Linked DNA regions of Homo sapiens. The protein of the gene in region 1 interacts with the protein of each later gene in a pairwise test. Each region holds a gene or a part of one and is shown in the gene's direction. Other genes may lie near its edges.

What was found.
Region 2: the proteins of PTPN4 (region 1) and LPL interact in a two-hybrid assay, tested with the Homo sapiens proteins (one large-scale study listed by BioGRID and IntAct).

The regions. Positions count from the first base shown.
Region 1 is NC_000002.12:119,762,684-119,766,512, forward strand, and holds part of PTPN4 (tyrosine-protein phosphatase non-receptor type 4), read left to right. Parts: intron 1-3,829. UniProt on the Homo sapiens protein: Phosphatase that plays a role in immunity, learning, synaptic plasticity or cell homeostasis. Regulates neuronal cell homeostasis by protecting neurons against apoptosis.
Region 2 is NC_000008.11:19,952,553-19,956,381, forward strand, and holds part of LPL (lipoprotein lipase precursor), read left to right. Parts: intron 1-757; coding exon 758-869; intron 870-1,567; coding exon 1,568-1,801; intron 1,802-3,288; coding exon 3,289-3,531; intron 3,532-3,829. UniProt on the Homo sapiens protein: Key enzyme in triglyceride metabolism.

The DNA.
Region 1 (3,829 bases):
AATGTTTTAAAGTTTTGCCTAAATTCTTAGTTAGAATGCAAAATTGATCAACTCCCTAGGAATGGTTATTGTGGCTAAATATGAATTGTTGCTCCTATGTAAAATTTAGTTATTGGTAGAAGTTTACTAACTGAGTTGAATTTTGTTGTTTTCCTGGGTTATTGCATGTTATGAAGTTTTTTATGTACTATAATCCAGATTTGTTAAATTTGCCAGTTTACTAGAATAAGCTGTGAAGCCTTGAAGTTTGGCTTAGCATTCTGAAAATCCTTTTTATTGTTTGCCAGGAAAGCACTGTAGGAAGGAGGTGTTATCTCTTCATTTAATATTTAATGAGTAGTATAGATGATGAGATAGGATATAATGTAGAAATACCGTAGAATCTTCTTTATTGATATGAAAGTACCATTGTCTAGGAACAGCATAATTTCTTATCTTTTGCATGAATGGGGAAAAAGAGGAGGGGAAATTTATTAGACTCTTTCATTTCATTAGAGATATCTTCCCTCACATTCATTCTTCATTTCATTATTCTTAAGTAGAAACTTTGGAAGAGAGATGCAAGTATTTGAATTAATTAGTAAGAACAAAATGAAAATTACATCGTATAGACTATCATGAGGAAAATATCAATTTGGGTTGGTTATTGTGTTTGTATTTTTTAACAAGGAGGTTATATAGAGTAGTAGAAAGAAAAAAGGACCCAGAGGGGAAGAGTGTTAATATTTATTGTCTGTTAAGTGTCAGATCCTGTATAAGGGGCTTTTCATGTTGTCCCACTCACCAAGTATGCTTTATGAGGTAGGTATTATTAATCCCCTGTCCTCTCCCTGCCAAATAGAAGCTAAGGGAAATGAAATAACTTGTCTAGGCTCATACTTCTAGTAAGTGGAATTCTCTAAAACTTATTCTTTAGATCGGTTCTGTCCAATTAAACTTTCTGCAATGATGGAAATATTCTTTTTTCCTTCAACTTTATTGAAGTATAATTGACAAATATCATAGAAATATTTTTTGCACTGTTAGTTATGGTAGCCATTAATCATGTGTGGCTATGGAGCACTTAAAATGTGACGAGTGTGTCTGAGAAACTCAATTTAAAATTGTATTTAATTTAAATCAATTTAAATTTATAGCCAGATGTGGCTAGTAGCTATAGTATTGGAGAGCATAGCTTTAGGTCTGACTGCTTAGAAAATCTGAGTTGTAGTATTTAATCTTCCACTGGTTTATGCATGGCATTGGGCAAGTTGTTTAGTTCTGGGCTTCAGTCTAATCTGGTGTGAAAATGAAGGGGTCGCCACTAAGAGATTATCTCCAAGGTTCCTTCTTGCCTGAAGTTCTGTGACTGTTATTAAAACATACAGTAGCATTCAATATTCACAAGCATTATGTCTGAAAGGATCCCCTCCCCAATATGCTCACCCATTACCTAAAGATTTCTGTTTAGTCAGTTTCTCTTTTTGAGAAGCGTATGTATAAAGCACACATAAAGGATAGTGGATTATTCCCCACCTCCCCAACTGTTCGGCAAAAACATTGTGTAACTCAAGGCAGTACTTTATGATGGAACAAAGTTTGAATCTTTAAAGGCCATATTTTAACATGCCACCTTCCCGTTTAAAAATATATAGGAGTTCCCCGGTGCTTATCAAATTAATCCCAAATTTACCTGCTTGACCTTGAAGACTTTCTACCAACTTCATCTCATTAACCTTGTTTCTCATTCGTGCTTAAAAAGAAAATAGTCTTGTTTTTTCCTTTGTCCTCGTTTCCATAATTTAAACATCTCTGTCTCCAATTCATGTGCCTCCTCTTTAAACCTTTTTCAAAATTCACCTGTTTCTGGAAGAATGCTGCTTAATCCACTCACAAGGATCAGTTAATGAATCCTGGTAATAAGTACCCTAAGGTTAATATATGCTTGTTTAGATATAGTTTAATATCTTCTTAAGCTTTTTTTTTTTCTTAAGTTTTTATGTTACCTACTCTGTTTCCTTAATTTTCTTAGGTTAAAAAAATTAAAATAGGAATAGCGTCTTTTGTATTGTCTTATGAATTTAGTTCATTTTTCAACAATGCTACTTTTAAAAGTTGCTAATTTTTAAAAAGGATAAATACTGTAACAACGTTTACCCTTGATCACCACCATAATAGCTATTTTTTGTTTCTTTCCAGGTAATTGTTCATATTTAAAAAATAAAGTTGTGTGGTAGAGAGAATTTTGAGAGGAATATAATGGGAACATTGTATGGTGGAGGCTGTGCAATGTAGGGGAAAGATCACAGACTTTGGAGTCAAATCTGGTGTGGAATCTAGCGTCAAAAACCTCGGGCAAACTGTCTGATTTCTGAGTCAGGAGTCAAATCTGGTGTGGAATCTAGCGTCAAAAGCCTTGGGCAAAGTGTCTCATTTCTGAGTCAGGTGGTCTTGAATTGTGGGGATTAAGATACTATATGTAAGGCATCTAGCGCTGTGCTTTAAATACAAGAGATGATCAGTCAGTGATAGTTGGTATTATTTTTTCATTTTTCTATTCCCATCTTCATGAATATTATTTATTTATTTTAGCTACCCAAAGCCACCAAGGTCAATGAATATAATTTAAGTGATTAGTTAAACATTCAGGTGATATACCATAACTGATTTAGACATTTACATTTTGTTAAGCGGTTTTTTGTTTATTTCCTCAGTTTAAAACCCTAGGACTGGGATAATGGTCAAGTGTCATGAATATTTCTGTGCCAGATCTCTCTCTTACAGAAGTACCTACAGTGGTTGTTCTTGTTTTGGGAAGAAAAAAATGCTAATTTTATAATTGTATTTCATTGTTTTAATTAATGTAATTTGAAAATTTATTTGGTGATGATGTAATGAACATTCCTTTATATGTTAAGCAAACATTTGAAATGCCCATTGTAGTGGGAGCAGTGGTATAAAGGTAAATAAGACATGATTCTTGTCCTTGAGCTCAAATTCTAGGGTGGTAACACATGTCAACAAACAATTAACAATTCATAGTGACAGTGTAATAAGATCTGGGGAAAAGAAGTGGCATTTGAATATGGTCTTGGAGGATCATTTGGAATTGATCTGGGTAGAGAGAACAGCATATAGAAAAAGTCAAAGTATGAAAGAATGTGTGGTGTGTTTGGAGAAATGTAAGTTGTCTTGTTGGATATGTCTGTCTCTGTCTGGGTGGGTGTGGTTGTCTGTTCCTGTGTGTGAATCTGTGTGTGTGTGTGTGTGTGCGCGCGCGCATGTGCGTTGATTGCAGTGGGAAATGAAGTCTTGTGAGGGTCCTTGTGTTTGGGCAATGAGTGGGATCATTTTAAGACCTTTAAAATAGAGCTTCCCAACTGGTGTGCCATGAATGGTTTACCAGTGTTTCGGAGAGCAAGATACCCTTGTTTAATGGGACCTGGGCATATCAGATCCCCCTCCCCACCCTGCCCCAGGATGGTTTCTTTTGGCTTTGAATAGCATTTGTGGCTTATCCCAACGTGCTAAGAAATTATTATTTTCTTTGTTGCCAAGTTGGGAAAAGGATTGGGAAAACCACTGTTTTAGAGACTGTAAGTATTAGAAAGTTTATGGTTCCTACTCACCCTTGGCATCCACTATGGAATCAGAAATAAATATCAAATCCTAAAGTAAGCTTAAGGTAAACTTAAGAATTCTTAAGTCACCTTCCTCTTTCTCTCTCTTTTTCCCTCCCTTTACCCGCTGCCTCCCCCATTTCACTGGTGTATGCGCATGTGCGCGCGTGTGTGTGTGTGTGTGTGTGTGTGTGTGTGTGTCTGTGTGTGTGTGTGTGTGTGTGTGTGAA
Region 2 (3,829 bases), on another chromosome or scaffold:
AAAGAAGCTGATACTCTGACCAAGGCAAATTATTTTAACCAGGTAATTGGAAGTAAAAAATAAGCTGTGTTTATTAGACTGATCATAAAAGACAAAAGTTCTTTTCTTGTCTTTTTTGCTGACCAGGCAAATGAACATGGGCAAACGGGATCACCTCCCTGGGGCTCAGGCTTCTCACCTGTTAAATGAGGGGCTGGACCATGTACCTCTGGTCCCTTCCACTGAATGTTTCCTGAGTCTGTCATTGCTTGGCTAACCTTCAATGATAAAGTGATACAGATATTTAGAGTAAGGAATAATGGGAAAATATATACCCATATACTATACATTCAAACATACACACATATACATATATGCATGCATATAAATGTATACGCATATGTATATGTGTATATGTTTGTACGTATAGTATATGGTTATATATGCAAATACATATACATATACAAACATATGCATATATTATATACATAAATAATACTATTTCAGATGCATGGAAAAACTTTGTAATTTAAATCTGCTATTAAAGAAAGAGAAAATCAATTCTGGATTTGTTTACGGAAAAGTGAAACAAAAGAAAAAGACAATTTTAACACTAGAGAATATTTTCTCTCTCTTACCTGTAACACAAAATTAAAATAAGTAGAATTAGTTTTCAGTATTTCCTATATTTGGAAAACAATATTTATATTCATTTTGTTTCTTTTAGTTTTATTTTTGGCAGAACTGTAAGCACCTTCATTTTCTTTTTCTTCCAAAGGAGGAGTTTAACTACCCTCTGGACAATGTCCATCTCTTGGGATACAGCCTTGGAGCCCATGCTGCTGGCATTGCAGGAAGTCTGACCAATAAGAAAGTCAACAGAATTACTGGTAAGAAAGCAATTTCGTTGGTCTTATCATAAGAGGTGAAAAGACTGTCATTCTGAGAGAGAATCAGAACAAATTTTGTTAAATACCCACATGTGTGGTGTTCTTCCCGGAGACATGACCAGCACTTGATTATCTCATTGTAGGGCTCTTTATTAGGGATAAGAAAAAACACAGACGCTCTCACTGGCTTACTATCCACTGGCAATAGCACAGAAATAAAGCATAATTACACACAATGCCTGCAGATTTCTCTGGGAAGCCTGTTTCCTCCCACTCTCAGCTCTGTGTTTTAGTAGTGTAAATGCACATCAGTACTAGGAGAAAAGAAGAAGGACCAATTCCAGAGGCCACTTCGAAAGAAGACCGTCATCTAGGCAAAGGTGTGGCATACACACAGAGAGAAAGAACCCACCACTGTTTATACATCTTCTCGACATATTCAGAAATAATCTACAAAAGGAAATCCAGCCATCCTGAGTGGAAACTGCTGCATAAGGCTAGTTTAAGAGACTCAAATTCATTTTAGAAGGAGCCAAGCCTCCTTTTATGTCTCTCTAAGTAAAGATACCATGACTGTAGAATAGGAGCTAATAAGAATCTAAATAGCTGCCAGTGCATTCAAATGATGAGCAGTGACATGCGAATGTCATACGAATGGAAATTTACAAATCTGTGTTCCTGCTTTTTTCCCTTTTAAGGCCTCGATCCAGCTGGACCTAACTTTGAGTATGCAGAAGCCCCGAGTCGTCTTTCTCCTGATGATGCAGATTTTGTAGACGTCTTACACACATTCACCAGAGGGTCCCCTGGTCGAAGCATTGGAATCCAGAAACCAGTTGGGCATGTTGACATTTACCCGAATGGAGGTACTTTTCAGCCAGGATGTAACATTGGAGAAGCTATCCGCGTGATTGCAGAGAGAGGACTTGGAGGTAAATATTATTTAGAAGCGAATTAAATGTGACTCTTATCCTTAACCCTTATTGACCCAATGTCCTACTCAGTAGCTTCAAAGTATGTAGTTTTCATATACACATTTGGCCAAATTATGTTTCTGAAGAATTCTGCAATGTTCAGCATGACCACCTTAGAGCCAGGCAGACAGCCATTTTATCTTTTATTTACTATACTGTAGGCTACACTGAGCAGTGCACTTACAGTAGCAAGAGAAAAAGGTGGGATTTTAGACAGGAAGACTCCACTGACCTCAATAATGGCATCATAAAATGCTATCTGGCCACATGTTGTCATACCTTGAATGTAGCTGCAAAGCCAATGGAAAGATTTTAGATGTTACTGGAACAGAAGATGTTAATTAGGATAAATCTTCCAAAATGTTCAGAACATAATGTTAGCTTAATGTTTTACTTTAATAATGTTAGCTTGTGTTAAATTTATGATTTTTGTTTGTTTGTTTTTTGAGATAGAGTCTTATTCTATTGCCCAAGCTGGGGTGCAGTCACACAATCACAGGGACTTGCAATGTTGCCCAGGCTGGTCTCAAACTCCTGGCCTCAAGTGATCCTCCTGCCTCAGCCTCCCAAAGTTCTGGGATTGCAGCTGTGAGCCACCACGCCCAGTTTACGATTTATTTTTAAGAGCCCCTTGCATACTTTATAGACATTGGGACCTACCTAGGATATTCTCGTTATTTTTGTGCACGTAATAGAACTTAGAGCATATTGTTACTATTTTCGATTGTCCTAAAAACTTACAAGGAATTCATTCTTATGGCATTGCTGATTATTTCTATGTTCATTTGATATAAAAGAGTGTTAGTAGGGGCAGAACCCTCAATTGTACATAATATCAATGATAAAATACAATTCATTTAACAATTACCCTCTTAAGATGTGGTTTCTAGAAATACAAATTGTCCCTAACTTACAGTTTTCCAACTTTACAATTGGGCTGTAACACCATTTTAAGTTGAGAAGCACGTGATGGTTTGACTTAAAACTTTTTGACATTATGATGGGTTTTGGGGGTATTAAGTGCATTTTGACTTACAGTATTTTTGACTTATGAAGAATTTATTGTAAGGCAAGGGGCAGGTATATGTTTCTAGAAGCACCTAGAAGTGTTAGACACTTTCAATGTAAGAGAAGGATGAGATAAACAAGGAAATCAACCTCCACCTTGGAGGCTTATTACAGCTTCATAAACATACTCATAAATATAAGAAGCACAAAAGTCAAAAATTCCCTGTGAACTTGCAACTTTCACTCTCTTGAAGGTGGGTGGGCCGCTACCACCAAGAATATCTCCTGAAATAGGGCCTACAATCATAAATGCACAGGACTATATCCTTGGGTGATTCTACTCTAACACCACATCTCACCTATTTTAGACATGCCAAATGAAACACTCTTTGTGAATTTCTGCCGAGATACAATCTTGGTGTCTCTTTTTTACCCAGATGTGGACCAGCTAGTGAAGTGCTCCCACGAGCGCTCCATTCATCTCTTCATCGACTCTCTGTTGAATGAAGAAAATCCAAGTAAGGCCTACAGGTGCAGTTCCAAGGAAGCCTTTGAGAAAGGGCTCTGCTTGAGTTGTAGAAAGAACCGCTGCAACAATCTGGGCTATGAGATCAATAAAGTCAGAGCCAAAAGAAGCAGCAAAATGTACCTGAAGACTCGTTCTCAGATGCCCTACAAAGGTAGGCTGGAGACTGTTGTAAATAAGGAAACCAAGGAGTCCTATTTCATCATGCTCACTGCATCACATGTACTGATTCTGTCCATTGGAACAGAGATGATGACTGGTGTTACTAAACCCTGAGCCCTGGTGTTTCTGTTGATAGGGGGTTGCATTGATCCATTTGTCTGAGGCTTCTAATTCCCATTGTCAGCAAGGTCCCAGTGCTCAGTGTGGGATTTGCAGCCTTGCTCGCTGCCCTCCCCTGTAAATGTGGCCATTAGCATGGGCTAGGCTATCAGCACAGAGCTCAGAGCTCA